Linked DNA regions of Homo sapiens. The protein of the gene in region 4 purifies or fractionates together with the protein of the main gene of each other region. This does not show direct contact. Each region holds a gene or a part of one and is shown on either strand. Other genes may lie near its edges.

Region 1 (3,500 bases), on a different chromosome or scaffold from region 4:
ATAGGTGCCTGACACAATAGGTGCTTCGTAAATATTTATTATTATTATTATTATTTTAGAGACAGGGTCTTGCTCTGTTGCCCCGGCTGGAATACAGTGGGATGATCATGGCTCACTGCCATCTCCAACTCCTGGGCTCAAACGATCCTCCCACCTCCGCCTACAGAGTAGCTGGGACTATAGGTACACAGCACCAAATTTTCTGTAGAGACGGGGGTCTTGCTTTGTAGCCCACACTAGTGTTGAACTCCTGGCCTCAAGTGATCCTCCTGCCTTGATGGGATTACAGGTGTGAGCCACCACACCCAGCCTAAATGTTTATTTCATTGGTCAGTGTCAGAACTAGGATTGGAATTTAGATTGTTAATCTCTTGCCACAAGATAGGAAAATGGAGCAAGATGAGGAGAAAAAAGCATTTAATGGGAGAGAACACCCTTGTCTGAGGTCAGGGACCTGGGAAGCAAGCACGACTTTGCCACTGTCACTGTGTGTTACTTGGACAGTGCCTTATTTTCCCATCTGTGAAATAAAAGAGCTGGATAAGAACCTTAGTTTTGAGATCCTGTCTCCCTTAAAAGCTGAAGACAAAGGTAACTGATCCAAGGGCAGACAAGGGATGGTACCATCATCTCCAGCTTGGACTCCCACTGCTGACAAAATTTGTCCCTTCAAAGTTGAGATAGCTACCATGGGGAAGAGCACTTAGTTCTATACTGAATGGCTCCAGGCATTTTCATGAAAGCTCTTTCAGCTTTGGGGAAGAATATTCATCCATATCTTTACCCCATCATATTAGTGTCTAAGCCCTGCAATCAGGCATGTCAGCCACGTGATGGAATGGGAGGGCTGCAGGGCAGCACTGTCCAGTAGAAACGAAATGCAAGCCACATATGTCATTTTAAGTTTTCTTTTTTTGAGATGGAGTTTCACTCCATCACCCAGGCTGGAGTGCAGTGGCACGATCTCGCCTCACTGCAACCTCCGCCTCCCAGGTTCATGTGATTCTCCTGCCTCAGCCTCCTGAGTAGCTGGGATTACAGGCATATGCCACCATGCCTGGCTAATTTTTGTATTTTTAGTAGAGATGGGGTTTCACCATGTTGATCAGGCTGGTCTGGAACTACTGACCTCAGGCCACCCGCCTTGGCCTCCCAAAGTGCTGGGATTACAGGCATGAGCCACCGCGCCCAGCTAATTTTTGTATTTTTATTTTATTTATTTATTTATTTTTTGGGAGACGGAGTCTTGCTCTGTCACCCAGGCTGGAGTGCAGTTGTGCGATCTTGGCTCACTGCAACCTCAGCCTCCCAAGTAGCTGGGATTACAGGCATGCACCATCATGCCCAGCTAATTTTTGTATTTTTAGTAGAGATGGGGTTTCACTGTGTTGGCCAGGCTGGTCTTGAACTCCTGACCTCAGGTGATCCACCGGCCTCAGCCTCCCAAAGTGCTGGGATTATAGGCGTGAGCCACTGCACCCGTCCTAATTTTTGTATTTTTAGTAGAGATGGGGTTTCACCATGTTGGCTAAGCTGGTCTGGAACTCATGGCCTCAAGTTATCTGCCCACCTCAGCCTCCCAAAGTGCTGAGTAAGCCAAGTTTTCTAATAGCCACATTAGACAAGTAAAAGGAAACAGGTTAAATTCATTTTAACATGTTTTACTTAACCCAATGTATCCAAAATAGCATTTCAACATGTCATCGGTTTTTTAGTTTTTTTTTTTTTTGAGATAGTGCTTCGCTTTGTTGCCCAGGCTGGAGTGCAGTGGCACAATCTCGGCTCACTGCAACCTCCACCTTCCAGGTTCAAGTGATTCTCCTGCCTCAGCCTCCCGAGTAGCTGGGATTACAGGCACCCGCCACCATGCCCACTAATTTTTGTATTTTTGGTTAGAGATGGGGTTTCGCCATGTTGGCCAGGCTAGTCTCAAACTCCTGACCTCAGGTGATCCACCCACCTCGGCCTCCCAAAGTGCTAGGATTACAGGCGTGAGGCACCGTGCCTGGCGTCATCGGTATTATTTAAATGAATTATGTTACGTTCTTTTGTGCTGTCTTCAAAATCTGTTATATATTTTACACTTACACCAAATCTCAATTACCATGGTACATTTTTATCTGAAATGCTTGACCTTTATTTTGATTTCATAAAATTCATAGTTGGAGAAGTAGATTCACATATCCAAGTTGTTCCAATTATATAATAGTTTTCCAAAAACTGAGATGGGTGTCCATTTTTTTTTTAAGTAAAGATGCAGGTCTGGTTATGTTGACCAAGTTGCTGGGTTGTTTTGTTTTGTTTTGAGACAGAGTCTCACTTTGTCACCCAGGCTGGAGTGCAGTGGCATGACCTCAGCTCACTGCAACCTCTGCCTCCCAGGTTCAACTGATTCTCTTGCATCATCCTCCTGAGTAGCTGGGACTACAGGTGTATGCCACCATGCCTGGCTAATTTTGGTATTTTTCTCAGAGACGGGGTTTCACCATGTTGGGCATGCTGGTCTTGAACTGCTGACCTCAGGTGATCCGCCCACCTCGGCCTCCCAAAGTGCTGGTATTACAGGCATGGGCCACCACACCTGGCCTCAGCTGTTCAATTAAAAGTAAATACAACTTAAAATTCTATGTTTCATTGGCAGTAGTGCAACATTAATACTGAGTAGCCACATGTGATTAGTGGCTATGGTATTGGACAGGGAAGGTACAGAATACTTCCATCAACATAGAAAATTCTATCAGTCTAGCTCTAGGGGCAGATAGTCCTTCCACTGACTTGGGCAAGTCACTCTACAAATGGCATCTACCTCACATGGTTATGGTGAGAATTCAGCGTATGTATGTACATGCAGGCACACAATATGCACACAGACACATAACATAGTACACCCTTTCCTGAAAAGCCTGACACATGGAGCTCAAACATGAGTGCCACCCACCCCTGGGCAGCACCAAGATGGCTCTAGTCTGGGTGCCTTTGTCTCACCCCCATGCCTTTGCTCGGAGTGTGCTCCTCATTTTTCTGCCACTTTGACCCTGTCTCTGATTTGGTCCTGTCTGACATCACTGCTATATGCTTTGCTCCTCTCAATTTCCTCTGCCCTCATGCCAGCAGGAGTCATGCCAGAGATCATATCTGAGAAAGCAAGACAATTTTGTGTGTGTGTCTGTGCCCATAGAGGAGTGCTGGTTGTGTTGATATAGTTGTAGATTGGTTGTGTTTACACAGTTGTATATATTGACACCCTTGAGTGTTATGACTTCTTTTGGGGGTGGTCGCCTTTTAAATCATAACTTTTAATGGGATTCCATTTTAGTCTTTGTGAAGACATAAGGTTGTTGGCAGGCATCTGTCCCTGGGAGCATCCAAGCAGAAAAGACTAAGACTCCCTTGTAGACAGATCACTGGCCGCCACTGAAGTGTGTCTGCATGGCACCACAGGGCTGGAAGACCCTTGAAGGCAGGAATTCAAGGAAATGTATGATGAATTTTGGCATTGC
Region 2 (3,500 bases), about 17 Mb from region 4:
CTGGCTCCCATTTATCCCTGAAGTCATGCATATACAAGCGCATAATGGTAGATGAAGCAGTGGGTTTCTCTATGTTGGATTCTCAGATCCACCATTCTGTGGCTCCTTGTAAAACAGTCCCATTTTCCTTTAGGAAGATTGTTATCTTTAGGAGTTGTCTTCCTGATCAAGGACTTGGAGTCAAATAAATTCTGGCAGAAAAGCAAAGTTATAATTACTCTTAAGTTTTTTTGATGATTAAAAATAGTGAAATTATAATCCACGATCTCAAAAGAAGTTGTTAAATGTAGAGCGTACATGTGTTTTACAAAACCACACAAAGACAGTTCAAGAAAATGATACTACAGACCAATATTCCTTATATGAACACAGACACAGAAATCCTCAACAAAATACCATATAGAAAATAAAACCCAGCATAATGGAGAAAGAATAATACACCAAACCAATTTGATTTATCCCAGGAACAAAAAGGTTGGTGCAGTTTTTGAAAGTAAATGTTATAGGTGTACACCATATTAATAACTTAAAATAACAGGCCAGGCACAGTGGCTTATGTCTGTAGTCCCAGCACTTTGGGAGGCCGAGGCAGGTGGATTGCTTGAGCCCAGGAGTTCAAGACCAGCCTGGGCAACATGGTGAATCCCCTTCTCTACAAAAAATACAAAAATTAGCATGACATGGTTGTGCATGCCTGTAGTCCCAGCTGTAGGCTAAGGTGGGAGAATTGCTTGAGCCCAGGAGGTCAAGGCTGCGGTGAGCCGCGATCGTGCCACTACACTCCAGCCTGGGCAACAGAGTGAGACCGTTTCTCAAAAACAAAACAAAACCCAAAGCCACATGATTCTATCATTTGATGCAGAAAAAAAAAACTTTTGACAAAATTCAGTACTTTTCCATAATAAATGCTGTCAGCAAACTTGGAAGAGAAAGGAACTTCTTCAACCTGAAAAAGGGCATCTACAAAAAATCTACAGCTAACATTATACTGTAATATATAATGTTACAGTGGGGAAAGAATGAATGCTTTCCCCCATGATGGGAAACAGGCAATGATGTTTACTGTTACCACTCATATTCAAGATCATACTGGAAGTCCTAGCCGTTGCAAAAAAATTAATAGGAGACGTACAGATCAGAAATAAATAAAACTGTCCCTATTCGCATATGGCATGATTAGGTAGATAATCACATGGGAATCTATAAAAAACCTCCTAGAACTAATAAGTGAGTTAGCAAGGTTACAGGATATAAGGTCAACACACGATAACCAATAGTATTTTTATATCCTAGCAATAAATCATTGGAAATTAAAACAAAAAAACCAATATCAGTTATAACAGCACTCAAAAGAATGAAATTCTTAGATATAAATCTCACAAAACATGTATAGAATCTGCTCACTGAAAACTACAAAACACTGAAGTAAGAAATCAAAGATGACCAAAATAAGTAGACAGGCATTCTGTGTTCATTAGGATTGGAAAACTCAATATAGTTAAAATATTAGTTCTCCACAAATGATCTATAGGTTTAATACGATCCCAAAATCCTAGCAAGGTTTTTTTGTAGATAGAAGAATGCTGATTCTAAACTTTATATTAGCCAGGCAAAGGGCTAGTGATGGTTTATGGAGGTATGTTCCAGGGAGAGAGAACAATGACATGAAGTCACCCTTGTTTAGGGTAGAATGTGTGTGTGTGTGTGTGTGTGTGTTGAGGGGAGTGTTTCTGAGAGTATGATGGACTTCGTATCTCTTATCGGCCATGAGACTTTTGGCAAGCTACTTGTTCACTCAGGCCACAAGCAGATCTCCTGCAGGTCTCTCACTTGGGGATTGTAAGTTGGGGATAATGGTAGTATTACAGTGCTGGTGAGCCCACCATGCTCCCTAGCTCAGCGTCTCAAGACACCACGTCATCAAAGCCTGTTGGAGGTTGCTATGGTCTGAATGTTGGCATTCCCCCAAAATTCAGATGTTGGAACCTAACACCCAGTGTGATAGTATTAAGAGGTGGAGCCTTTTGGGAAGTAATTAAGTCATGAGGGCTCAGCCCTCATGAATGGGATTAGTGCCCTTTTAAAAGAGTTTGAAGGGAGTGTCCTTGCTCATTCTGCCATGTGAGGACACATAGAAAGTGCCGTCTGTGAAGAATGGGCCCTCACTCAGATACTGAATCTGCTGGCACCTGGATCTTGGAGTTTCCAGCCTCCAGAACTATGAGCAATAAATTTCTATTTATAAATTACCCATTTTGGCCAGGCGCGGTGGCTTACACCTGTAATCCCAGCACTCTGGGAGGCCGAGGCGGGCAGATCACAAGGTCAGGAGATCAAGACCATCCTGGCTAACACGGTGAAACCCGGTCTCAATGAAAAATATAAAAAATTAGCCGGGTGTGGTGGCAGGCGCCTGTAGTCCCAGCTACTCAGGAGGCTGAGGCAGGAGAATAGCGTGAACCCAGGAGGCGGAGCTTGCAGTGAGCCAAGATTGCGCCACTGCACTCCAGCCTGGGCGACAGAGCGAGACTCCGTCTCAAAAAAAAAAAAAAAAAAAAAAATTACCCTTTTTACGGTATTTGGTTATAGCAACCAGAACAGACAACAGACTGATAGTGATACAGAATATCTCTGGAATGATACAAGTTGGGGAGCTGGGTGGCCGAGGGCCAGGGTGTCAGGGAGACATTTTCTGCTGTATAACTGTTTGTACCTTTTGTATTTTATTTTATTTTATTTTATTTTTGAGACGGTCTCGCTATGTTGCCTAGGCTGGCCACAAACTCCTGGGCTCAAGCGATCCTCTTGCCTTCAGCTCCCAAAGTCCAAGGTTTACAGGCATGAGCCACTGCTCCCAGCCCTTGAATTTTGTACCACATGCAAGTACCTTCTATTCAAAAATTACTAAAATAGTAGATGTTACTAGCTTTACCTTAGTATAGCCTTAAAGCTCATATACTGACTGTAATCTTTAACTTTTCATGACTTTCTTTGTAATTTGGAGGCCCTTGGGAAGAATGATTTAGATAATACAGACCACTTGGACAAACTTGAAGCTTAAATTGTTTTAAAATGCACTTTTCTGTAAAAAAAAAAAAAAAAAAAGCATTCTGCACAATAGTGGGTGCTTAATAAATTTGTTGATGCTAATGGAAAACTTCTTCCATTTGAAAGGAATTTACCCTCATTTGTTAGTGAAAATGTTGTAACATTAAAGAAAATTAGAAATTAGAAAAATAATCATCGTATTATGACAGACTCAAATGAAAAGGACTTGGAAATTTTTTCCTTTCCAAAGGCTACATATGATCCCCTGTGGCAAAGTCTGGTGATTATGTTTTCTAGTTTTTTTGCTATTAGGAAGATGCGTCAATAAATGTCCTCATGAGTGTAGCCTGGATTCTTCTTTTGAATTATTATTTTTGGTTAAATTTCAAGGAGTGCTTTTACTACATCAAAGGACAAGACCACCACATTTCTGAACATTTAAAAAAAAAATA
Region 3 (3,500 bases), on a different chromosome or scaffold from region 4:
GTAGTACAGTGGCAGAGGCCTGATTCTAACCCAGGCAGTCTGGCTCAAGAGTCCAAGCTCTTTACCACTACTCTTTCGTCTTCCTTTCTTCCTTTCCCTCCCACCCTCCTTCTTCCTTTCCTTTCTTTTCTCTCTTTCTTTTCCTTCCTTCTTTTCTTTCTTTTTCCTTCCTTCCTTCCTTTTCTTTATTTTTCCTTCTTCCTTCCTCCTTCGTTCCTTGCTTCCTTCTTTCCTTTTCTTTTTCTTTCCTTTCCTTTTTTTTTCTTTCCTTTCTTTTCTTTCTTCTTTAACTTTTTGAGACATTGTCTCACTCTGTCTCCCCAGGCTGAGTGCAGTGGTGCAGTCATGGCTCACTGCAGCCTCAACCTCCCTGGGTCAAGTGATCCTCCAACCTCAGCTTCCTGAGTAGCTGGGTCTACAGTTGCACACCCCACCATGCCTAGCTAATTTTTTCTATTTTTCATAGTGACGAGGTCTCACTTTGTTGCCTGAGTTGGTCTCAAACTCCTGGCCTCAAGCAGTCTTCCCACTTGGCCTCCCAAAGTGCTGAGATTACAGGTGTGAGCCACCACGCCCAGCCTTTTACCACTACTTTAAATTCCATTTAGATCTAATATTGATAGAGTGATAACCATATCAACCAGATTTTTTAAATATGCAAACAATGGTGCCAGTTTCTGTATCTATGTGACAAAAATATATAGAGTTTGTGGTATCACTTTTACCTGTTTAGAGCACTCTTTGGAAAGGCAGGGAAATTACTGTGAAGGTATTGGTATTCCAGAAGTAAGTTCCTGGAGTGTTTGCCTTCTAAGGTGTGAGGACGTGGTTTGTCACACCCAGTTAACTAACAGATAGACGGTGTAGTGAGCTGTCCGGAAGACTTAGCAGGTTAGCCTAGGGAGGAAGGAGAAAGGGGTTCTGGGCACATGGAGGGAGGGGGAGGGAAAAGAGTTTGTTTGAATCTGTCCTAGATTGGGGTAGCTTTTTCGGAGGGAGGCCTTGTCGTGTGGACCTGCTGCATATAAAGACAGGAGAATTGGACCTGAGGTGTGGTGCTAGCTAAAGCGCCACACAGATCTGGGAATTTAAGAGGAGTTCATTTCCTCAATCATTAGGAAGAACTTGAAAGGGTAGCAAACTGTGGTCATTTGAGAAGAACAGCAAGTGGTCATATTTGAATGTAACATATTCAACTGGGTTGGGAAAGAACCAGAATCTAGATCTTGCCCATAGCAAGTGCAAAACCAGGCGTTCTTATAAACCATGTACTCTTGTAAACACTGATAAGACATAGCACTGAGTCCTGAGCTTTTCTTCTATAAAGTTATTGTACAGGTTGAGGATCCCTAATCCGAAAATCCAAAATCTGAAATGCCCCTGTGAGCATTTCCGTTGAGTGTCATTGGCACTCAAAGTTTTGGATTTTGGACCATTTCAGATTTTGAACTTTCAGATTTGGGATGCTCAACCGGTATATAATGCACATATTCCCAAATCTGAAAAAATCCCAAATCCAAAGCATTTCAGCTCCAAAGTGTTTCAGATAAGGAATATTCAACCTGTACTACATTGTACTAGGCTTGTATTAGATTCCCAGTTTTCAAAATTTGTATCTCAGAATCCCTGTTCTCTGTCAATGAAACAGGGATTTCATACACCTTTGATTCACATTTTAATGTTTTAAGTTTAAAATATTATAAATGTTTATACACAGTCAAATGAATCTCATGCTAAATTTTAATATATTAGAGACAACTGATTTGTCTGCCAGGTTATCTCAAGAGAGTTAATACTGAGTGAAAACAAGTGAGAACCCTAAAAGATTACATACTGTATGATTGCATTTATGTAACATTATTGAAATAACAAACCTGCAGAGATGGAGAACAGATTTAGTGGTTGCTAGGAGTTAGGAATGGGAGGTGAGGGGTGGTGTGGTTATAAAGTGGTAGCATGAGGGAGCTGTGTAGGGATGGAACAGTTCAATGTCTCAGGTGTGATTATACAAAGCTGCAAATGTGATAAAAACTTCATACAACCACACACACACATACTGCATATAAATCCTAGCGTACTCAAGTCCCATTTTGCATACAAAACTGGTGAAACCTGAATAAACTCAGGATTGGAGGAATTTGGGCGAGGGTACTTGGGACCTCCCTGTGTACTTTTTTGTAAATTCCTGTGATTTATAATTATAGTAATTTTAAAATAAAAAGTTGGCCAGGCACAGTGGCTCATGCCTGTAATCCCAGCACTTTGGGAGGCTGAGGCGGATGTATCACGTGAGGTCAGGAGTTCAAGACCAGCTTGGCCAACATGGTGAAACCCCATCTCTACTAAAAATACAAAAATTAGCCGGGCATGGTAGTGGGTGCCTGTAGTCTGAGCTACCTGGGAGGCTGAGGCAGGAGAATCACTTGAACCTGGGAGGCAGAGGTTGCAGTGAGCTGAGATCATGCCACTGCACTCCAGCCTGAGCGACAGAGCAAACTCTGTCTCAAGAAAATAAAATAAAATAGACTGGGTGTAGTGGCTCACGCCTGTAACCCCAGCACTTTGGGAGACTGAGGCGGGTGGATCACCTGAGGTCGGGAGTTGGAGACCAGCCTGACCAACATGGTGAAACCCCATCTCTACTAAAAATACAAAATTAGTCGGGCATGGTGGTGCATGCCTGTAATCTCAGCTACTCGGGAGGCTGAGACAGGAGAGTTGCTTGAACCCAGGAGGCAGAGGTTGCAGTGAGCCAAGATCACGCCATTGCACTCCAGCCTGGGCAACAAGAGTGAAACTCCGTCTGAAAAATAAAATAAAATAAAATAAAAAGTAAAAAAGCAAAAAAAAAAAAAAAGTGCATTTAGAATATTTGAGAGAAAATAAGCAAAAGGAAGAAAATGTAAATTATCTATAATGCTTACACCCAGGACAATAATCCTTGGAATAGAGTGTCTCACTTTGTGTATAGAAATGAAACTTTTAAAATGCCATTTTATTTTTTAATTAAAATTTTTTCTTTCCTTTTTTTTCCTCCTCAGAGTTAGAAAGGATAAAAATGTTATTGATTAGTAAGACTGTAGCTTTATGTTGATATTTTGAAATTTTAGGCTAGTGCTTGTTTGTTCATGTAACATATAAGCACATTCAGTACTATTAGAACTGTTGCATTATGCAATAACATGACTGCCTAATGCATATATCAGGATTAGTACATATTGTAAAGTTTTTATTTTTTACCAAAATGTTTACGACTACCAAGTATTCATTCCTTAACACTATTACATAATTAATTTAGAAATGTTTTACTTTTAAAACTTCTGGACAGGTGTAATTAAATCCTTAGATAGCGTTAATGTACTATTTAAAAAACACACACAAAACATTATCATTGGCAAAACATGCTTTATCATCTATTCATCTTTGTGAATCCGGTTTTTCTTGATACCATGCCATCAAAACAAAACAAATTTGACATAAGACTGCCCAATCATCCATAA
Region 4 (3,500 bases):
GATTTATTCTTTGTCTAAAAAGTATAAAAGCATCTCATTTCGGCCGCTTCATCAGACATCACTGTGTTAAGATCCCAATGACAAGGAAAATTAATAAGATCCGTAGGCTTTTCTCCTGCTGATGTGATTGTCTGGTGTTGATTTTAGTTTCTAGGTCCAGCTGAACAGCCCACATAAGAGGCAGGCATGGGGCAGGGGCTTAATGGATTAATGGGTTAATGGACTGATGGGTTATGGGCATGGCACTAGTGGCTTTATAAGAAGAGGGAATGGGCCAGGCCAGGCACGGTGGCTCATGCCTGTAATCCCAGCACTTTGGGAGGCCAGGGCGGGTGGATCACGAGGTCAGGAGATCGAGACCATCCTGGCTAACACGGTGAAACCCTGTCTTTACTAAAAATTCAAAAATGTGGCGGGCGTCTGTAGTCCCAGCTACTCAGGAGGCTAGGGCAGGAGAATGGCGTGAACCCAGGAGGCGGAGCTTGCAGTGAGCCGAGATCGTGCCACTGCACTCCAGCCTGGGCGACAGAGAGAGACTCTGTCTCAAAAAAAAAAAAAAAAAAAAAAAAAAAGGAATGAGGGCTGAGTCAGAGCTCATCCTTGCTATACAATGCCCTATGCCACCTCTGAAGACAGTCCCCATTGGCAAGAAGGCCCTCACCAGTGTGGGCACTCAATCTTGGACTTCTCAGCCTTCATAACTGTAGGAAGTAAGTTTCTTTTCTTTATGAGATGCCCAGTTTCAGGTATTCTGTTGTAAGCAACAAAAAATGGACTAAGATACTGTGGTTATCCAGGAAACTTGCTGGGTGACTCCTTCCCCAGCAGAGGAGGTCCCATCAGTCTGTAGCCCCTGGGTCAGAGGGTGTGACTCAGTGATTCAGTATCACCTCCACATGTTCCCACTGCCAGGGTCATGGGACCTCTCAGAAAGGGCTTGCAGAGAAGCTGAAAGGAACATGGCTCTTAGAGACCTATCTCTCAGGACAGGGCAGGCAACCCGGGGTGACAGAAGCAGTGTCACCCTGTTGGCGCAAAGGGAATGGCGCTCTTGTCCTCAGTCCACGAAAACTAGCTGTGTGATTCTAGGTATTGGTTGATGCCCTGGCTCTTGGTTTTCCCCATTTGGAAATGTGTGCACAGCTAGCTGCTTTCTTTAGATGTCGTAGGAGTGAGATGGACAGGGCATGGGAGGTGTGTTTGTATTTTTCAAAGTGCTCTGTGCTTCTAGTCAACACACGCACTGTGGGTGAGCTCCGTGCACCAGCTCTGTGAGCGATTTGAAAGGAGGATAAGTGGCGGATTTGTCTGCAGGGGTCTTGAATCCCTGGAGCACAGTCATGTGTAGGCTTAGGACAGGAAAGCTTTGGGCTATCCCTTCCAGAACCTTCTTTCAGCTCCTAAGGAAAATCTTAGGTGGTAAAGCCAGGCGCTGTCTGTCTGTTGGTGGGGGAGGGGGCAGCATTTTCCTAATCCACTCTGTGGCTTCCATCCTTTCCCACCTTCAGGGGTTTATGGCTTCCTGACTTTTGGGACAGAAGTTTCTGCTGACGTCTTGATGTCCTACCCAGGCAATGATATGGTCATCATTGTGGCCCGGGTCCTTTTTGCTGTCTCCATCGTAACTGTCTACCCCATCGTGCTCTTCCTGGGGAGGTGAGGCCTGGCTCAGTGGGGGGCACCGTGAAGCATGGTCTGCTGATGTGTGCTGTGATTGAGCATGTACCAGGTGTGGGCTACGCGGCTGTGGGACTACCATCCTCTCCAATTGTAGACAGGAGGAAACAGGCACAGAGGATTTAGGTAGATTGCCCAAAGTCACTCCGTGAGTGTGTGTCCACAGCCAGGACTGGAATGCGAACCACGTGCTTCATCCCCTGCCCCATGGGCTGCCCGATGGTGGCAGAACCCCTGAGGGTTGGCAAGGTCTCCTGGGGAATAAACACCTGAGTGTGGAACAGGAGCACTGACAGGTGTGAGGGGACTCCTGGAGGACTGGGGAGCAGCTGTCGGGTGGAGGCTGGTGCCCCTGAGATGCCCATGTGTCTGTGTTGGCTGTGGCCTCCAGGTCAGTGATGCAGGACTTCTGGAGGAGGAGCTGCTTGGGGGGATGGGGGCCCAGCGCCCTGGCCGACCCCTCAGGGCTGTGGGTCCGGATGCCGCTGACCATCCTGTGGGTCACCGTGACGCTCGCCATGGCGCTGTTTATGCCTGACCTCAGCGAGATCGTCAGCATCATCGGAGGCATCAGTTCCTTCTTCATCTTCATCTTCCCAGGTGAGGCCCCTGCTTTCCAGGCTTTCTGCCCACTTGTTCTTCCCTGCTCATCTCTGTGGGGACTCCCAGTGTTGGAGGTCAAGGTTCTGGAAGGTGGGAGCCACATATGGGTAGGATTAAGACCCCATGTAGGTGCCCTTTTTATTGAGCCAGGCACAGGCTTGGGCTTTACATACCTTCCCTCACTCATTAAACATCTCATTAGCTCCTGATGAGGTTTGGTTGTGTTCACACCCAAATCTCACCTTGAACTGTAATAATTACCATCTGTGAAGGGCAGGGCAAGGTGGAGATAGTTGAATCATGGGGATGGTTCCACCCATTCTGTTCTTGTGGTAGTGAATAAGTCTCATGAGATCTGATGGTTTTATAAGTGGGGGTCCCCCCCCGCCCCCCAGCACAAGCTCTCTTGCCTGCCTGCCACCATGTAAGACGTGACTTTGCTCCTTATTTGCCTTTTGCCATGATTGTGAGGCCTCCTCAGCCATGTGGAACTGTGAGTCCATTAAACCTCTTTTCTTTATAAATTACCTAGCCTCTGGCTGGGCACAGTGGCTCACGCCTGTAATCCCAGCACTTTGGGAGGCCGAGGCAGGCGGATCACCTGAGGTCAGGAGGTCGAGACCAGCCTACTAAAAATACAAAATTAGCCATCCATGGTGGTGTATGCCTGTAATCACAGCTACTCAGGAGGCTTAGGCAGGAGAATCACTTGAACCCGGGAGGCGGAGGTTGCAGGGAGCCAAGATTGCGCCACTGCACTCTAGCCTGGGCGACAAGAGTGAAACTCCATCTCAAACAAAACAAACCATTACCTAGTCCCTGGTAGGTCTTTATTAGCAGCATGAGAGCAGACTAATACAGCTCCTGATGGACATTCTTGACGTAGGAACGTTTATGATCCCATTCCATAGATGCGAAGACCGAGGCCCTGAACCCCCGCCGGGGGCACAGCTAGTATGCAGCAGGGCTGAGGGTCAATCATACAGCTCTGTCCATGCTACCGCTGGTGCCTCCTGCTAAAAGATTTTGTTTTATTAAAAAAAGAAAATCGTATATGTGAAAGTCACGTGGCTCAAGGCACCCTGCAAATGTCTCCCTTCCCTCCTGCCTCCAGGCCCTGGAGGCAAACACCGTTTCTGCGAAGGATGGTTTCTTAGGAAACCTTCCCAAACAGCCCAAGCATTATCTGAGAAGGGGAAGCCAGCAAGGTGGGGGCTGGA
Region 5 (4,213 bases), on a different chromosome or scaffold from region 4:
GAAATCCCATCTCTACTAAAAATAAAAAATTAGTCGGGCATGGTGGCGCATGCCTGCAGTCCCAGCTTCTCGGGAGGCTGAGGTGGGATAATCGCTTGAATCCGGGAGGCAGAGGTTGAGGTGAGCCGAGATCGCGCCATTGCACTCCAGTCTGAGCAACAAGAGTGAAACTCCGTCTCAAAAAAAAAAAAAGTGTAGTCACTGACCAGCTGGAGCTGACAATAGAGGCGGAGATTTCAGACACATGAATGGATACTTACAGTACAGTGCGTGAGTGCTCTGGTAGGGAAGTAAGGGATTCTGGTTCCAGGGGCATCTACTACAGACTTAGGGGTTTGAGAAAGGCTTCTTAAAGTGCCTTGGGAAGGAGGAGTAAAGGAGGAAAAGGAAGGTGAGGAGGTCCAGTGTTGGAATAAGCAGAAGTATTCTAGCCAGAGGGATCAGGGAGTGATATAGGCCTAGAAGGGAGAACTTGGGAGTGTTCAGGAAACCAACGGCGGTAAGGATGGAGATGAGAAAAAACAGACATTTGAGAGTTGAAGAGCCATATTCTAGAGTTTGGGTTGTGTGCTAAAGGCAATTGAGAACCTTTCAAGGCAAGTGCAGCAAATTGTTTCCTACAGCTTTCTGTGGCTGTAGGGTAGAGATGGATTGTAGCCAATTAGAATGAAGACTGTAGAGACGGTCTTTGCCATAGGCCAACAAAGTGATGAACTGAGTAGGACTGTGGCCGCTGCTTCCCACCCTCACCAGAAGAAGGGCTAATCCACACTTGTTATTGAATTGATTGAATTGCGGGGGGGGGGGGGCCTACAATTCCCAGCGGTCTGGTCTGCGGGCGGGGGTGGGGGTGGGGGTAATGTAATTCGAGAAGCCAGAGAACCTAGGAGGGAAAAATCGGCTGGAGATGCCAAGAGAAGGCATGCGTTAAATTGTGGTCATGCGGAGCTAAGTGTCTTTGAGACATTAAATCGGACACGTCCTGTAGGTTATACAGGCGCCAAGGAAGAAAATCTGCATAAGAACACAGTTTTTTCTTTGCGGGAGTTTAACTCTCTCGGCCAGAAACAGTCCTGTCCTGCATTTCTTAAGTTTTTTCCGAATCCCACAAGCCCTTCGAAGGCCCCGCGGACTCGTGCCAGCGCGCCCGCGCATGCTCAGTAGCAAGACGTGCTAGGCAATGAGGAGGGAGATGAGTTTTCCGTAACCTGAAGCAACATCCTCCTGATTCCTCATTAAAGAAAAAGGCGGGAACTAGTCAAAAGCCGGGGACTGATGGGACGCTAGGATCTGCGCGTCCCGCCCATTTCGGCCTCTGACTGGTGAATGTCTTCGGCTTATGGCAGAGGAGCCCGCCTCATTGGCTCTCAGGCTCCAGAGCAGCAGGTCTCCGGCGCCCACCCCGCCTCCCCCAGCTGCCGACGTGGGGCGGGCAGCCGCCGGCGGCTGGGAGCCGAGGCGTCGGTGCAGACCTGGAGACGGGCATGGGGGGGCTGCGGCTGCTGGCTGTGGCCCTCACGTGCTGCTGGTGGCCGCAGGGCAGCCAGGGTAAGACCCTGCGGGGCAGCTTCAGCAGCACCGCGGCCCAGGACGCCCAGGGCCAGCGCATCGGCCACTTCGAGTTCCATGGTAGGTCTGGGGGCGGGGAGGGGGATGAAGGCGCGCTGGCCCATCCCGCCGGCTGAGTCCGCCGGCCGCTCCTCCCGGCCCCTCCCTGCCACGTTGGGCGAGGCCGGCGACTTCCCCAGCCTCACCTGGACCTCCAGCGTTGCAGCAGCTGCCGCGAATGGTGGGATGCGTTCCTTGCCAACCCCGCTGGTGCGGCTTTCCAGCCCCAGGCAGCGGCCTCTCGCCACTAGTGATCGTGTTCCGCACCTGAAAGCTGGTTTCCATTTCCCCAACCCTCCCCTTGGAAGCCAATGTGCAAAAGACTGGTCGGCCGCATCTTTCCAGATCCTTCCCGCAAAGAAGCATATTTGCTCCTTCCTGTCTCGGCCACACTGTGACGGGAGAATTTAACCCTAGAAACTTAAATTTCCTTTTTTTTTTTTTTTTTTTTAAAGACCAATTTCCTGAGACCTACTTGCAACAGAGTGGTTTTGGAAACCAAGTAAAACACTTGATAATGTAGTTGTTATATTGAGCAGTTTGGTTACTTGGCTACTAGGGCAGTAGATTTACTATGGGCAGTAAGGCCTAGAATTAAGCTGATGAAAATGCATTTAAGTAGCATCTTGGAAGCTCCCTAATTTGTGTTCTGTGTGGCTCTTCTGAAATCAGAGTTGCGTTTGATTTCAGACCTTTTGGTCTTCCTCAAAAATCAGTAATTATTCCTTCAATAAATGCATTTGCAATTCATTCTAATTTTGGTCTCATTTGCACTCTCACAATTTAAGTGTTTTTCTTGGTACTCTTAATTTGACTAGTGCTGTATTTCAAATAATTATTTGCCTTGATGACATTAGGAACTTTGATTTGTACAGTCTTTAGCATTAAAAGATGCAACGATGAACATCAGAATATTGGCCTAGAAAATATTGTTAGGAGAAGATAATAGAAACGGAACTACTTTGGTGAGAAAAGGAATTTAAAGTATTGGGAAATTACAGAATTGACAGAATAAAGGGAAGGGATCCTGATTTTTTTTTTTTTTGAAGTTTTTAAGATAGCTAAGAAAAGGAGTTTCAGTAACCCAGTTTTTCAAAATCCAATGTGGAATATATTTTGGGTGAATGAAGAAGAAACACTAGAAACAATTTTATTATTTTTTGTAACATTTTGAGTTTCTCATTCAACGGACTGTAACCATACTTTGAGTATTGACAGCCACTGTCTTAAATGGCACAATGTGGACAGTGTTGGAAAATGTGGGATGTATAGAAGACGTGGGTTATTACTTAGGACCAGCAGAGAGACTTGGACGACCTCATAGTTCCTGATGATCATCTGGTAAACGTGGAGGAGAAACATGTACTAAATTCAGATTTCTCAAGACAGATTGGGGATAAGGTGTTTCAAGTGCGTTCATTCTGTTTCATATGTGTAAAATCACATATAGTTATTACCAATTTTCATGAATCCCAATTCAGTAAAATAATAATACAAAAACTATACTGAAACAATGAACTGTAACTCGGAATGCAATTTACAGTGTCAATTGGGCCTCAGAGTCACTTGTAAGACTTCAAAATATGTAATCAATTTATGTAAGAGACTTGCACATTCTTTGATATATATACTGTATATTTAAATATATTTAAAATGTTTAATCAAAGTGGTAATTATAGTAATAAAAGCATAGAAAAAAAATTTCCAGGAGAATAGAAGATCTTAAAATGAAAAACAGTCTCCTGTCTTAGCTCTTTCACCCAGAATCCCTTTCCCTAGAGGCAATAACTTACTGCCATTTCTGTTCTGGGCCTTAAATGTAGTTGGTGTGTGCAACCAGGTTCATTCTGTATTCATCTTACAACATATATTATTCTGAAAGTTCTTTTTTTTTAAAAAGGAAGCCAGACTCGTTGGGTGGCTCCTGCCTGTAATCCCACCACTTTGGGAGGCAGAGGTGGGCAGATCACTTGAGGTCAGGAGTTCAATACCAACCTGGTGGCTGGGCGTGGTGGCTCACACCTGTAATCCCAGCACTTTGGGAGGCTGAGGTGGGTGGATCACCTGAGGTCAGGAGTTAAAGACCAGCCTAGCCATCATGGTGAAACCCCGTCTCTATAAAAATATAAAAATTAGCCAGGCATGATGGCAGGTGCCTGTAATCCCAGCTATTTTGGGAGGGTGAGGCAGGAGAATCGCTTGAACCGGGGAGGCGGAGGTTGCAGTTAGCTGAGATCGTGCCATTGCACTCCAGCCTGGGCAATAGGGCGAGAATATGTCTCAAAAATAAATTAAAAAAAAAAAAAAAGACCAACCTGGCCAACATGGTGAAACGCTGTCTCTACTAAAAATACAAAAATTAGCTGGATGTGGTGATGCTGGGTGTGGAGGCGCATGCCTGTAATCCCAGCTACTCCTACTCAGGAAGCTGAGGCAGGAGAATCAGGAGAATCGCTTGAACCTGGGAGGTGGAGGTTGCAGTGAGCCGAGATTGCGCCACTGCACTCCAGCCTGAGTGACAGAGTAACACTCTGTCTCAAAAAAAAAAGAGTTTTGCTCTGTCACCCAGACTGGAGTGCAGTGGTGTAATCAAAGCTGACTGCAG
Region 6 (3,500 bases), on a different chromosome or scaffold from region 4:
GGACTACAGTTGTATGCCACCATCCCTGGCTGTTAAAAATTTTTTTTGGTGCAGTGGGTTTTTCCCTATGTTGCCAAGGCTGGTCTCAAACTCCTGGGCTCAACCAGTCCTTTCACCTTGGCCTCCCAGAATGCTGGGATTATAGGTGGGAGCCACTGTGCCTGACCTTTCTTGTACATTTGTGAATTTGAAAGAGTTATATGCCAGCTTCTAAGGCATTTCTTAAAGATGAATTTTTAAATCCTGGTTTCTTTTAAGTCTTTTTGGAATAGCTATACATTAGCCAAAGTAAATTTTTTGATACAAGTTTACCTCTAAAGGAAGAGGACATTCGAATAGGGTTTTATAGCTATTTCAGTATAGGGTTTTATGATTTTCTCTTAAGGAATTTCAGAGTATGTGTCATTGTTTCAAGATTTTCTATTTACTACTTTAAAAATGGAAATAATAGGTCTTTGGTACCTTCTTGAAGGTCATATGCCACAAAGAATGCAAAAATACATGAAAGTCCTTAGTATTTGTTGTTATGGTCATTTTTTAGAGCTAATTTTATTTTTAATCATTAGCGGTTGCTTCGTTTGGAGTTCTGTTTTTATAACAATGATAGATAATATCTGCATCATATTATTGATGTAAAAAAAATCTACCTTTGAAATGAATTAGGGATGTACCATACTTTTGAATGTTTGTCATCAAACAACATTTAGCATAAACTGCATCTAGTGGCCATTGCTCTGTAATATGTAAAGACTTGTCGGTACTTTGTCCTGCTAATTAATTTGAGGATTTAGATTGTAAGCTCTGTGAGGGCAGAAAGTAATATTTTTCTCATTTTTGTAATCTTTTCTATTATTGTCTGCATAGCATAGTACTTTACACTGTATCAGAAATTGAGTATTTTGGTTTAGGCTTCTATGGTAATAGAGGTTAAGAAAGGAAATTTGGTAGACCTTTAACATTTGCTGGATTTTGACATTTTTGATTTTTGACTGAAGTCTTCAAGTTCTGTTACATGACACAAGAATGTGAAATGATTTTTTCTTTTTTTGGGAAAAGCTGGTTTTTTGTGTGCTTTATATAATTTAAAGAAAAGACTTGTTATGAAATAGTTTCAGTCATTTTCTGAATTATTGTTGAAATTAGTACAGGGTAGATTCACATGGTCAGAAAGTGTCACTTAAAGTTTTCACCTTTAGCTTATGTGGTTGATATTTATCTAATTAGAAATTAAGACCCAGAAATTTAAAAAATTCAAGCACATATTCCATTAGCTGCCAGAGCAATGTCACCACACATCCTGTAGCTTCTAGAAAACCATGTAACATATACTCATGAGGGAATGAGAGCAAGGGGAAAAGGCAAAATGTGAAACATAAGGATATATAATGTCTTAGTATAATAATGAAATAATTTTGACTTCATGTATTCCCTGAAGAGTCCACACTGTGATAACTGCTGCTTTATATTGTTATGATTACTCACAGACAGAAGCTATGTGGAAGAGAAGCAAAAAAGTAAAGGAGTAGAATAGACAGCGGAGCATGTTTTAAAATGTAAAATATAGAGTACCTGTAAAATGTAGTAGTATTTTCTTCTTATAGTAGTATTTACAGCCCTGAGAGAGAAGATTGAATTAATTACAACTTGAACACTTGACCATTTCTACTGCTGTATTTTTTGTGAAAAACGAAAATTCAAATGTTTGTTTTATTATTTCCCACTATTTTTTTTTTTTTTTGTATATGGCTTAATATGTGCCACACTTAGGTAGTATGGTAAAGATGTAAAGGTACCTAGGCTTTGGATCTAAACAGACCTATACTCAAATCTCAGTTCTTGTTAGGGCTTGTACCTTGGGCAAGTTACTAATCTTTTTTCTCACCATTAAAATGAGAATTGTGTTTAGAAGTTTGTTATGAGGACTAACTATTTATGTAAAATTCTAGATACAATGCATTTGTCCAACCCCAAGTTCACAAAAGTCTGGTCATCCCCTTTTTGTAATTATAATTTGACTCTCATGTGCTTTTATTCAAATGAGAGAGAAACATAACTTTTCATCATAGCAACAAACTTAAAATAATGTCTTTTACTTATTATTGCTTGGAATCATCAATTATTTATGCTTTTTTCCTAGTCAAAGTAAACAAGTATGGAGATACTTGGGATGAGTGAAAAATTACATCATTGGACATGAAGGAGTTTCAACATCCAGCTTCATCTAGGTGGTCATGATTACCTGCATGCTTTGAGCTCAGCAGCAGTCTTCATAAACACATTTAAAACAAGATCCTGGGTTTTTGTGGTTTGACTTCTATGGTGTTTTAAAAAAACACAGATTTTTAGTGTTAATATTGTGTAAATGTACTCACCTTAGGGATTCATTTGAATGATGGTATTATACCATGATTGTATACAGTTTGTGAAATTGTTGCAAGGGCAAAGATAACTCTTAAAAAACCGTCGAGATTACAATGCTCTAGAATCAGCATATAAGAAAATAAATGATATCTGCATGTTGAATTGGGGTGGATGGGGGGAGCAAGCATAATTTTTAAGTGTGAAGCTTTGCATCAAGAAATTATTAAAAAGCTTTTTTTCTCCAGTATTTTCTGTATTATCTTAATGTTTATGGCAAATAAAATGTAAAGGAACATGCAACAGCCCTCATCTTCCTTGATTTTATGGTTTTATTGTTTGTAATTTATTGATTTATTTTTAAGCTAGTTATAATCATGTAGGTATAGGAAATAAAGTCATCTATAATATTTCTATAATATGGCTATAATATGGCTATAAATCTATAATATGGCTGGAGGCAGTGGGCAGTGGTTCATGCCTGTAATCCCAGCACTTTGGGAGGCCGAAGTGGGAGGATTGCATGAGTCCAGGAGTTTGAGACCAGCCTGGGCAACAAAGCGAGACCCTGTCTTTACAAAAAAATAAAAATTAGCTGGCGATGGTGTCGTGTGCCTGTAGTCCTAGTTACTTAAGAGGCTGAGTTGGGAGGATCAGTTGAACCCAGTGGTTCTGGGTTGCAGTGAGCTGTGGTCACACCACTGAACTCCAGCCTGTGCGACTGAGTGAGACCCTGTGTCTAAAAAAATAAAAATATAATGAATGTGATTTATGTAGATAAATTGATAATATAGTAAATAGGTAAATGCCTTAAAAAGCATTTTTAAAGAATTTGTAAATTCTAAAACAATAAAAATTTGGTATACATCACAGAGACTGATATTATGTTAAAAAGAAAAATTGGTGTACAGTGACCCTTCGTATCTGTGGGTTCCGTATCTGCAGATTCAATCAACTGCAGATTGAAAATATTTGAGGGAGAGAAATGGATGGTTGTCTGTACTGAACTCTTGTTATTCCCAAACAATACATTGTAATAACTATTTACATAGCATTTACATTAGGCATTACAAGTAATCTATAAATGACTTAAAGTATATAGGAGGATGTGCATTGGTTATATGTAAATACTACACCATTTT
Region 7 (3,500 bases), on a different chromosome or scaffold from region 4:
GTGTGGCTGAGAAGAAAACGAGTGACAAAATTGCTGCCTTGGTTCCTGGGGCTAATTAGAAAGGAGTGAGGGGATGGTGGGAAAAGTTTTGCCAAGCCATGGATAGAGCCTAGAAGAGAGGAAAGGGAAGATAGTTGAAGACTCACTAAGCTAGGCGTGGTGGCTCACGCCTGTAATCCCAACACTTTGGGAGGCCGAGGCGGGCGGATCACAAGGTCAGGAGTTCAAGACCAGTCTGGCCAACATGGTGAAACCCGTCTCTACTAAAAATACAAAAAAATTAGCTGGGCATGGTGGCGCGTGCCTGTTATTCCAGCTACTCAGGAGGCTGAGGGAGGAGAATTGCCTGAACCCAGACCCAGGACCCAGGAGGTGGAGGTTGCAGTGAGCCGAGATCGTGCCACTGCATTCCAGCCTGAGCTACAGAGCGAGACTCGTCTCAACAACAACAACAACAACAACAAAAACAAAGTACTCACTAGTCAGGCTGACTTTAGAAAAAGCTTTACTTTACCCACACTAATTTAGACATAGAAATAGAGCTGTTTGGCCAGGCACAGTGAGTCACGCCTGTAATCCCAGCGCTTTGGAAGGCTGAGATGGGAAAATTGCTGAAGCCAGGAGTTCAATAACAGCATGGGCAACAGAGTGAGACCCCTGGGCTACAAAAATCAATTTTTTTTTGTTTTAAATTAGCTGAATATGGTGGTGTACACCTGTAGGCTGAGCTACTTTGGAGACTGAGGTGGGAGGATTGCTTGAGCCCAGGAGTTGGAGGTTGCAGTGAGTCATGGGCCATGATCATGCCACTGCACTCCAGCCGGGGCAACAGAGTGAGGCTCTGTCTCATGTTTTTGGGTTTTTTTTTTTTTCTTTAAGAAAGGTGTGTCTCACTGGAAAAAAAAAAAAAGCTTTGAGACCCTATAAAGTTTGATTCAGTATTTTTAAAATGTTGTGGTGGCTAACTGCAATTACATATGGTATGTGAGGGTATGGAAATGCCATTGTATTCTGAAATAGAGCACTACTTTGCTCTTTTTGCATTGATTTCCTAGGTCAAAAGAATAACATCTTTTTGCAACAGTAATTGAAAGCAATAGATTCTTTTCTGTGTTTAGGTTTTGTTTTGTTCTTACTAGGATGTACCTTTGATTTGGATTTGCATTCCTTTCCCTGTCACTAGCAGAACTTTACAAAATATACTCTGCTATCTATTAATACTAGTTTCGGCTCCCAGATGCTTTATCATATAGAAACAGCATTGTAGAAGAGCAGCTAGCTTCACGCCCCTTTCTAATCAATTAACTATAATCTAGCTGTGAATATTGCCCTTGAAAAGTGGATGACCCTTTGGGGCAAAGAAAATTGAAGACGTGTAAGTTCCCAATTTTGTCAATAAGGAAAGTACTAAAGGCACTCAAAGTAGAAACTGTACGTGCTCTGAGAAAAATGTGTTTGGTTTTGCTTGTATAGAGAAATTTAAATTTTTTAATAGAATTAAACAAAGCAAGAGCAAGAGTTGAAAAGTGGAATGCTGACCATTCAAAGAGTGATCGAATGACTCGAGGACTCCGAGCCCAAGTAGATGACCTGACTGAAGCTGTGGCTGCAAAGGATTCCCAGCTGGCTGTACTGAAAGTGAGACTCCAGGAAGCTGACCAGCTACTGAGTACTCGCACAGAAGCATTAGAAGCCTTACAGAGTGAAAAATCACGGTAGGTGATTCTATGAATAATGAAAAAAATGAGCAAGTAATGGTAAACATTGTAGTGTATCCACTTATGAAACTTAGCTTTCTTGGAAATTTACAAGAGGGAATATTTCTTTTGGTAGTGTTAGAAATGTGTATGATTAAAATGGATTCATTGGCTGGGCGTGGTGGCTCAAGCCTGTAATCCTAGCACTTTGGGAAGCCGAGGCAGGTGGATCACCTGAGGTTGGGAGTTCGAGACCAGCCTGACCAACATGGAGAAACCCCGTCTCTACTAAAAATACAGAAAAAAAATTAGCCGGGGGTGGTGGCACATGCCTGTAATCCCAGCTACTCAGGAGGCGAGGCAGCAGAATCACTTGAACCCAGGAGGTGGAGGTTGCAGTGAGCTGAGATTGTGCCATTGCACTCCAGCCTGGGCAAAAAGAGCGAAACTCCATCTCAACAACAACAACATAAAATGGATTCATTGTTTGAACCTTGAGATGCATTGTTAGCAAATTCTGAATTTAAAAGCATTTGTTGTGTCATTAATCTTTCATTATACGGTATGTACTTAATATTTGGATGCCTAAAAATGTAGATTATGTTCCATTAGAAAGGAAAGATTTATCTAAGAATATTTCAGTCAAATTATCTTTTTTGTGCTTGACTAAAGCTGACGCTCTAAAAATTATTCTGCCTTATCACTTGTACACTGTAGACATGAGTTATTTCACATGATGCATTTTCCTTTAGAATAATGCAGGATCAAAGTGAAGGTAACAGCCTGCAGAATCAAGCTCTGCAGACTTTTCAGGAGAGACTGCATGAAGCGGATGCCACTCTGAAGAGAGAGCAGGAGAGCTATAAACAGATGCAGGTTAGAATGAGAGACAGCAGATTCCTATTGTTACTTGGACACGGAAAAAATGACTTTATGCTGTTTCATAGCACATTAACTGTCTAATATAATTCTGCAATGCATTTCAGAAAATTCTGTTTCTGTGACAAAAATCAGATATTTGAAAATTTAGCTTGATCCTTGCTAAATGTATTTAATTTTATGTGTTGAGAGACAATTAAAATAGTTAATGTGCATTAGAGATATACATCTTTTACTTAATTTTTGCAACAATCATTGTCATTATTTGATTAAATGCTAATGGTTGGGGGATCGTATTTGTTTTTTATTAATTTAAGTTTTTCTGATTCCAGATTAATCTGGCTCATTTATTTCAGGAGAAAATTGTATGTAATATGTAAAGAGTTTTACTCTTAGATGAATATTTGCATTTAGTTCAGTCCCAGCCCTGTCTACACGTGGGAATCACTTGTGTGATACCTTGTGCTGTCTGAGCTCCATATGCAGTCACATTCCATTGTATGAGGTAGGGACTAGGTATTGACACTTTGGTTTTAGAAGGTTCACAGGTGTATCTAATGAGCAGTCAGGGTTGCAAACCACTGGTCTGGGCTAGCTTTTCAACAGGTGAAAGTAATTCAGTCCTGAAAGTAAATATCAGGTAGTGTGTGTCTCTTAATTTTAACACAATATATCCAAAGTATTAATTATTTCAATATGTAGTCAATATTAAAAGTTATTAATGAGATATTTTACATTATTTTTTGAATACTGGTTCTTTAAAATATGGTGTAATTTACACCTATTTATTTACTTATTAAATTGGAAACAGTTGATCAGCTAGTATCAGACCAGACCTAGTATCCAAGTGACCAGGTTCACCTGGGAAATTTCTTAAAAAACAGATTCCCAGACCCATCTTGAAAATTCCAGTTTAGTAAGCTT

The links.
Region 1: the proteins of SLC38A8 (region 4) and IRGQ purify together in Homo sapiens (affinity purification with mass spectrometry; one large-scale study listed by BioGRID and IntAct). This does not show direct contact.
Region 2: the proteins of SLC38A8 (region 4) and CMTM4 purify together in Homo sapiens (affinity purification with mass spectrometry; one large-scale study listed by BioGRID and IntAct). This does not show direct contact.
Region 3: the proteins of SLC38A8 (region 4) and VKORC1L1 purify together in Homo sapiens (affinity purification with mass spectrometry; one large-scale study listed by BioGRID and IntAct). This does not show direct contact.
Region 5: the proteins of SLC38A8 (region 4) and GPR180 purify together in Homo sapiens (affinity purification with mass spectrometry; one large-scale study listed by BioGRID and IntAct). This does not show direct contact.
Region 6: the proteins of SLC38A8 (region 4) and OCIAD1 purify together in Homo sapiens (affinity purification with mass spectrometry; one large-scale study listed by BioGRID and IntAct). This does not show direct contact.
Region 7: the proteins of SLC38A8 (region 4) and GOLGA5 purify together in Homo sapiens (affinity purification with mass spectrometry; one large-scale study listed by BioGRID and IntAct). This does not show direct contact.

The regions. Positions count from the first base shown.
Region 1 is NC_000019.10:43,586,135-43,589,634, reverse strand, and holds part of IRGQ (immunity-related GTPase family Q protein), read left to right. Parts: 3' UTR 1-3,500. UniProt on the Homo sapiens protein: Autophagy receptor that specifically promotes clearance of misfolded MHC class I molecules by targeting them to the lysosome for degradation.
Region 2 is NC_000016.10:66,686,744-66,690,243, reverse strand, and holds part of CMTM4 (CKLF-like MARVEL transmembrane domain-containing protein 4), read left to right. Parts: intron 1-3,500. UniProt on the Homo sapiens protein: Acts as a backup for CMTM6 to regulate plasma membrane expression of PD-L1/CD274, an immune inhibitory ligand critical for immune tolerance to self and antitumor immunity. May protect PD-L1/CD274 from being polyubiquitinated and targeted for degradation.
Region 3 is NC_000007.14:65,879,574-65,883,073, forward strand, and holds part of VKORC1L1 (vitamin K epoxide reductase complex subunit 1-like protein 1), read left to right. Parts: intron 1-3,500. UniProt on the Homo sapiens protein: Involved in vitamin K metabolism. Can reduce inactive vitamin K 2,3-epoxide to active vitamin K, and may contribute to vitamin K-mediated protection against oxidative stress.
Region 4 is NC_000016.10:84,015,296-84,018,795, reverse strand, and holds part of SLC38A8 (solute carrier family 38 member 8), read left to right. Parts: intron 1-1,508; coding exon 1,509-1,656; intron 1,657-2,068; coding exon 2,069-2,277; intron 2,278-3,500. UniProt on the Homo sapiens protein: Electrogenic sodium-dependent amino acid transporter with a preference for L-glutamine, L-alanine, L-histidine, L-aspartate and L-arginine. May facilitate glutamine uptake in both excitatory and inhibitory neurons.
Region 5 is NC_000013.11:94,600,444-94,604,656, forward strand, and holds the start of GPR180 (integral membrane protein GPR180 precursor), read left to right. Parts: upstream 1-1,413; 5' UTR 1,414-1,484; coding exon 1,485-1,629; intron 1,630-4,213.
Region 6 is NC_000004.12:48,858,588-48,862,087, forward strand, and holds the end of OCIAD1 (OCIA domain-containing protein 1), read left to right. Parts: intron 1-1,569; exon of another isoform or gene 1,570-1,616; intron 1,617-2,137; coding exon 2,138-2,175; 3' UTR 2,176-3,228; downstream 3,229-3,500. UniProt on the Homo sapiens protein: Maintains stem cell potency. Increases STAT3 phosphorylation and controls ERK phosphorylation. May act as a scaffold, increasing STAT3 recruitment onto endosomes. Involved in integrin-mediated cancer cell adhesion and colony formation in ovarian cancer.
Region 7 is NC_000014.9:92,807,805-92,811,304, forward strand, and holds part of GOLGA5 (golgin subfamily A member 5), read left to right. Parts: intron 1-1,495; coding exon 1,496-1,715; intron 1,716-2,449; coding exon 2,450-2,573; intron 2,574-3,500. UniProt on the Homo sapiens protein: Involved in maintaining Golgi structure. Stimulates the formation of Golgi stacks and ribbons. Involved in intra-Golgi retrograde transport.